2 linked regions of the Homo sapiens genome follow. The protein of the gene in region 2 interacts with the protein of the main gene of each other region in a pairwise test. Each region holds a gene or a part of one and is shown on either strand. Other genes may lie near its edges.

The links.
Region 1: the proteins of RNF8 (region 2) and PSMB1 interact in binary tests that used the Homo sapiens proteins (3 or more experiments, as listed by UniProt).

Annotation. Positions count from the first base shown.
Region 1 is NC_000006.12:170,536,308-170,539,807, forward strand, and holds part of PSMB1 (proteasome subunit beta type-1), read right to left. Parts: intron 1,034-3,500; coding exon 927-1,033; intron 1-926. UniProt on the Homo sapiens protein: Non-catalytic component of the 20S core proteasome complex involved in the proteolytic degradation of most intracellular proteins. This complex plays numerous essential roles within the cell by associating with different regulatory particles.
Region 2 is NC_000006.12:37,367,483-37,370,982, reverse strand, and holds part of RNF8 (E3 ubiquitin-protein ligase RNF8), read right to left. Parts: intron 2,606-3,500; exon of another isoform or gene 2,500-2,605; coding exon 1,765-2,499; intron 1-1,764. UniProt on the Homo sapiens protein: E3 ubiquitin-protein ligase that plays a key role in DNA damage signaling via 2 distinct roles: by mediating the 'Lys-63'-linked ubiquitination of histones H2A and H2AX and promoting the recruitment of DNA repair proteins at double-strand breaks (DSBs) sites, and by catalyzing 'Lys-48'-linked ubiquitination to remove target proteins from DNA damage sites.

The DNA of each region.
Region 1 (3,500 bases), about 130 Mb from region 2:
ACACATAAACTGATTATAAAAAGTTAAAGTGATCTCTCAATGTTCTCCTTTGTTTTTCATTGTGTTTAGTGCGATTATTATAAACCTTAAATAACAAGTGGCCCAAACAAAGCACTATTAGTGATGCTGGAACTGCTCCCCAAGAAGCAGGGAAAGTTATGACATCACAAGAAAAAGCTGAATTGCTTGATATGTACTGTAGATTGAGGTCTGCAGCTGTGGTTGTCCACCACTCCAGACAGATGATTCTCCTTGTAAACAGATGATGTAAACTTACAGTATCAACAAATACAGTATTGTAAATGTATTTTCTCTTCCTATAATTTTCTTAATAACATTCTCTTTCCTGTAGTTTATTTATCATAAGAATACAGCACATAATACATATGTAAAATACGTGATAATCCACAGTTTACATTATTGGCAAGGCTTCCAGTCAACAGTAGGCTTATTTGTAAGTTTTCTTGGAGTCGAAAGTTATATGTGGATTTTCCAGTGCTCGGGGAACTGGCGCCCCAATCCCCGTGTTGTTCAAGGCTCAACTGTATGCTTGGGAGTTCAAGTACAGTATTGGGTAACACAGAAAGGGGGGGTAAGAGGGAAAAAGGCATTTTTATGATCTTCAGGTAAAGACAGCAAGAGAATTAGCCACTACAGACATAAAAGAGTTGGAAGCCATGAGAATACAGGAAAACAATCAAAACCATGGGAGTAGGTAAGGACCCACAAGAGAGTAGGCAGAACACAGAGAGAGACCATGAGGTTTCTGTAGGACACGTCTGCCAAACTCAAACAGTAATTTATAAGAAAGTCTTTATATCTTGGCTCTCCTAAGCTAATGAAGAGGAGAACTTGGAGGAAGGCACTTCAACTGAACACCATGACAAGTTGGACATAGTATCATTACCTGGACACAGTATCATTACCTGGTTGTCAAGCAGGGGCTGTAGCATGGCACTTGCTGAGCCTCCAGCCTTGAAGGAGTCTCTCTGGTAAGACCCTACTGGATCAAAGCTGTATACAGCCCCCTTTCCTTAAAGAAGAAAACAGTATTCATAAGGATGGTATCCAATCACAATCCCAAATCATCGCAAAAATAAATCAGGTCAAAACGTGACACAAAACGGACTATCACCTTGGCTAAAACTTCAGGGAACAGTTGGAACACAGCCACTGTTGCACTGGTGACAGCTGCAGCACACACACTGTTGCACATGTGACAGCCAGAACCCAGTCACCATTGCACAGGTGCCACCCAGCAGACAGCCCCAATCCCCGTGTTGGTGTGTTGTTCAAGGGTAAACTGTAGGCTTGGGAGTTAAAATACAATATTGAGTAACACAGAAAGGGTGGGTAAGAGGGAGAAAGGCATTTTTATGATCTTCAGGTAAAGATGACAAGAGAATTAACCACTGCAGATGTAAAACAGTTGGAAGCCATGAGAATACACAAAAATAATCCAAGCCATGGTAGTAGGTAAGGACCCGTAAGAGAGTAGGGAGAACACAGAGAGAGATGGTGAGGTTTCTGTAGGACACATCAGCCAAACTCAAACAGTCATTTGTAAGAAAGTCTTTATTTCTTGGCTCTCCTAAGCTAACGAAGAGGAGAACTTGAAGGAAAGCACGACTTATGTATATAGACAGGTCCAAGGGACACATCCGCAAGACACAGTAAAACGAAGAGAATTCTGTAACCTGTAAAATACGATACTGCTTTTGTTTAAAAGAATAAGAAAACTATTTGTACAAGCACAAAAAAGTCTGGAAAGATAAGTAACTGTGGCTGGTCATCTTTGAGCTCTGAATTAGAGGCAAGAAAAGAAGGGAATTAATTCATGTGCTTCTATCTTATTTGAGTTTGTTACAAAGAACACAGGTGATTCTACAATCGTTAAAAAGGCCTGTTAAAAACAACCGTGTTCTGGGTATGAGAAATCACGAGTCATTTACAAGGTATGATTTTTTAAAAACATAACTGATTTAGAAAACACATTATATACCAGAACTCAGTACCCTGGGAGATGTGATATAGGGACAATCTCCTTACTAACCATGTACAACTGCCACTGTTAGCTTTGTATGTTTTCTACTATAGAACTGCGTAAACTTGGCCAGGCGCGGTGGCTCACGCCTGTAATCCCAGCACTCTGGGAGGCTGAGGTGGGCCGATCACGAGGTCAGGAGTTCGAGATCAGCCTGGCCAACACAGTGAAACCCCATCTCTACTAAAAATACAAAAATTAGCTGAGCATGGTGGCACGTGCCTCTATTCCCAACTACTTGGGAGGCTGAGGCAGGAGAATCGCTTGAACCCAGGAGGCGGAGGTTGTGGTGAGCCGAGATCATGCCACTGCACTCCAGCCTGGGCAACAGAGCGAGACTTGGTCTCAAAAAAAGAAAAAGGATTGTGTAAACTGAATTCTCTGGTGGAGAAGGCACCATCTGAGGTCACCTAAGAAACTGGGAAGTATTTTTGCTGGAAGCAAGCTTGGGACAAGACATGAGATCACAGCAGGCAATCCACTAACCTCAATATACAAAAAAAGAAAGAGATGTAAGGTGTAAAGGCAGAAAAATGATTGTATCTCTCATGAGGATGACAGGCCACAAGTAAACTGAGGCCCAAAAGCTTTACCCAAGGATGGAACCAATCTCAGAAAACCACACACAACAAATTTAAAAAAATAAACCAAAGAAAGGGTGGGCTATGTCCAAGAACACAGCTTTAAAGACCCCCTAGAAGAAGCAAGAGAGACACTAGTAAAATCAGTATAAAACAGCAAAAATCAATAAATAAAAACAAAAATAAATGTAGAATGGCATGAATCTTGATTACAAAGTGCTTTTCCTCATCAAAGTAAAATCCAAAAAGCACAATCATTTCAATGTAAAAAATAAAATCAGACAAGTCTTAAAAGAAATACAGCTAAGCTTTGGATGGGAGAAGTTTTTCTAACAAGGCAAGAAACTGAATGTCATAAAGAAATGATTGACAGATTAGACTGTATGAAACACAGCAATTTCTGTGTAGCAAAAGGCACCACCCAAAAGAGACAAATAACACTCTTGGGAGTATCTATAATATCACAGACATTTGACACAGTCGAATGTAGTTCTTGAAAATCAGTAAGAAGAAAACTAACCTGCAAATAAGGAAATGGGCAACAGTTAATATATGAATCAGTCTCCAAAGAGGAAATTTATAAAGTCAATAAACATATGAAAACATGCCCAAGAATATATATAAATGAAAATAATAAACTGTTCAATAGGCAAAAAGATGTTTCAAAATGTGTTAATTCTAATACTGGGAAGGTTATATAAAATCGGGTACTCAGGGTACTGGCGTATCCTTCAGAAAGAGTATACTCAACAAAATACAAAAAAAAATTTATCTGACCCAATACTTCAACTACTCGAAGTTTATTCTAGCAAGACAAGCATAATTGGGGAAGTACACAAAAATGTATGTACAAGGATGTTCATCATAGTGTTTAT
Region 2 (3,500 bases):
TTCCAGGTGATCATTAACCTATATGTCCAGCACCTTCCAAAAGAACTTCTGGGCCCTTCTGTCCTTAAGAATTACCTACCCATTTAATATGCCAACTTGAAATTGTTCTCTAATTTACTATATTGACTGAAAACTATTCTCTGATTATATCGTGTGCAGGAAACATCTTGCCTCCTCAACAAGATAAATTCCTTAATGGCAAAAACCATTTGGTAAGCATCTTTATAACCACTAGAATTCCCTAGTACCAGGCAATTTGAGTACTTAAAAAAAAAAAAAAAGTGTGAAGGAGCAAGGGTTTAATGAGCTTCTAAACCAGCAGTAGGGGATAGGATAAATCCTCAGGGCTTGGTGGGCAGAGGGAGATGCAGCTGATAAACAAGGGACTAGATACACTTCACTATGAGCATCATATACACAACCAACTCATACCCAGAGAAATTCTCTAAACCAATCCTTTCGCCTTTAACATTTTGGTACAGAAAAAGATTTTGCAGCTATACCTTGAGGCATGTCCAGAGCAGCCACAAATATTAAGCAACAGTAACTTGTTCCTGAACATATTAGCCTTTACAGAGAGTTCTGTCCTGGTGAAGGTGTGATATACTAAACACGTAGACATAAACCACCCTCTATTAATTTCAAGAACTAGTCTAGGCTGGATAAGGGAAGCAAAAAGGTACACATAAGTAAGCAGTGTATACTCTCAAAAGACCTATTTAATCCATGGCCTTTGCTAATACTGTCAGTTCAAGGGGATGGCAGAGATCAGAATGAAATTTATAAATTGCTCAGAAATAAGCCAACACTACCCCTGGCTGTTCCTTACCCTGAGCAACCCAAACAAAAAGCTTATTCACTTTAGTTGTGACTGGTCCGTCTGAGTTCTAAGTCAACAATGGGGAATTCTTGACATTCAATATTATCTGAGCAACTGGGTGGGAGCAAAATATGTGGTTCCTGCCAGATAGGAAATGACATTTTGAGCAGGGACAGGATCTGCTCTAGCCTAAAGCTTTGTGCAAGAGCTTGTCATCTAAGCAAATGACTGAGGGATGGAAATACATTTGGTCTTACCTTTATACAGCTAAGACAGTCATTATTTTACCTTCCTACTATAGGCACTGTGGAAGGTGGTTTATCATTCAACCCAACAATGCAGTCATGGTGCATCTGTCCCATCACATGCTGGCTGCTCAAAATAGAAACAAAAACATTTTCTGCCTTTTTAGCCCCTCACCTCCTGGCTTAGCTACAGAGTTAACTAACCTTTATAGCTAACAAACTGTCAGGTACCAGGGCAGAGGAACCAGCTGACCTGTACCTGCCCTGAGACTAAGTGATTTGGCCTTGGCCACAGAGCAAAGATACACAAGTCTTGAAGACAACTATTGATTCAATTGGACTATACTGTGGTTTTGTGGCATGTTGACCTTCACCTAACTTCCCCCTGAATTCATGTTGGTTCTGAGTTGCCTCAGCTTTGCCTCCTGGGATGAGTTATGCCCTGGCTGGCTCTGCTGGTCACTTTACCCTATCTTGGCACTCTAACTCTGGCTCCTGATCTCATCAGCATGCTGAAGCCTTAACCCTCTACTCAATCCCCTTCCCTTATCTCAAAAGTTTACTGTTCCCATTCCATTTCCTGTCTTTGGTGCTCAGAATTTGGTACCTGGCCCAGAAACTGAGAACTCTGGCCAGAGACTCATGAAGTGCCTGCCCCACCCCTGAAGACCACTCTTGCCCTTCCCTTCTGTGTGGTACCTGAAGATGCTGTTCCTCTTCCTGGAAAGTCTTCTCTAGTTGCTCCACTCTTGCCTGCTGCTGAGCCTGCTCTGCACACAGCTGGGACTGTAAGTCCTGAAGTTCCTGCTCCATTTGCACAACTTTCTTTGAGTTCCCCTTTTGGGTCTGCTTTTTCACATTCATAACGGCTTCATGTTTTTCCTGCATCTGTATTTTGAGCCTCAGAATCCTGGACATGGTCACCTTAAACATCTGTAAGCTTCTCTGAGATGCTGAAGAGTTTGAGGCTTTCTGCTCATGATGAACCTCTGTGACTTTGGGGAAGCCAGGGTAAATGGGAGCCCCTGTGGTCTTACTTGGCTCAAGGGCAGTCAACTTAGGATCCAAATTGTCAGAGGGTGTACTGGCCACTTCACCTTTCCCCTGTGATTTCACTGGCTGACCAGATTCACAAGACACTTTATTTATTTTGGATTTCAAATTTGAGGGGCCTTCAGCTCCAGGACCTGCTAATTCATCCAAACTGAATTTCCTTTTAGTTCTCAATTCCTTATTTTTTTCTATCATTTGGTCATTCTTTGGGGAAAGACAAGGATATATTGTCTCCCAGTCTTCTTCAGTAACTTCATATTCATACTCCGCATTCTCCTTATTTTCCAGAGGCACTCCAAGTTGGATGTAGTCTCCCTGATGAATGGAATAGACCCTTAAAGGTTCCAGACGCGCTCTGTTCAGCCAAACACCATTTAGACTCTGGGGAAAGTGAAAGAAAGAAGAAATAAGCTTCATGATTTTCGTCTTCTTAAAGGAATCTCTCTCCTGCTGCTGTAAAATCTTCTGCCTTTTCAGAAGGAAAACTCTTGATAACAAATAGAAAAGAAAGATTCATAAACGACCATCCTTAGAAACAGCATTCGTCAAGCAGTGCTTTGGCTTTTTACCTATATTTCACATTCATGCCTCCACAGAGAACTGCCATATAACAGGCAGGAATCACCTTATTATTGGTGGATAATTTACTCAAACACATGGAATAGCATTAAAGGAAACTGAAATTGGATAGCTCCTATTAACCTAAACTGGAGCAATGTCCCAAAACTAGAAAAAATGCTATTAGTGAAGAAAGCAGTAGCTAAGGGTGAGGTCCATGAAGTAGTTTCAAATGCTATCTCTGGATGTGGTTCCTTAACGCACTGGTAAGCAAGCAAGCACACATAAACCAAAAAAAAGAGAGTACTATATCTGGTACTGGGGTCAAATGGCAGGTAGGATCTGACCCAATTAATATCAACAGGGGTATATGGGCAATACAGGATAGCGGTTAAGAGCTGGAGCTCTGGACTCAGATGTGGGTTCATAGTCTGCATAGCATTTGGCAATTTACTTAACCTCTCCATGCCTCAGTTTTGTCTGCAGAACAGGGATGGTACAGTACCTACCTCACACTGTTCCAGTGAGGAATGAATAAGATAATGCATGTAAATCACTTAGCACAATGACTCACATAGAATAAATGCTTAATAAATATTTACTGTCTGGGAGTGGCAGCTTACATCTGTAATCTCAGCACTTTGAGAGGCCGAGGTGTGCGGATCACTTGAGGCCAGGAGTTCAAGACCACCCTGGCCAACACAGTGAGACCACCTCTCTACTAAAAATACAAAAATTAGCCAGGTGTGGTGGTGGGTGCCTGTAATCCCAGCTACTTGGGAGGCCAAGGCATGAGAATTACTAGAACCCAGGCGGCAGAGGAT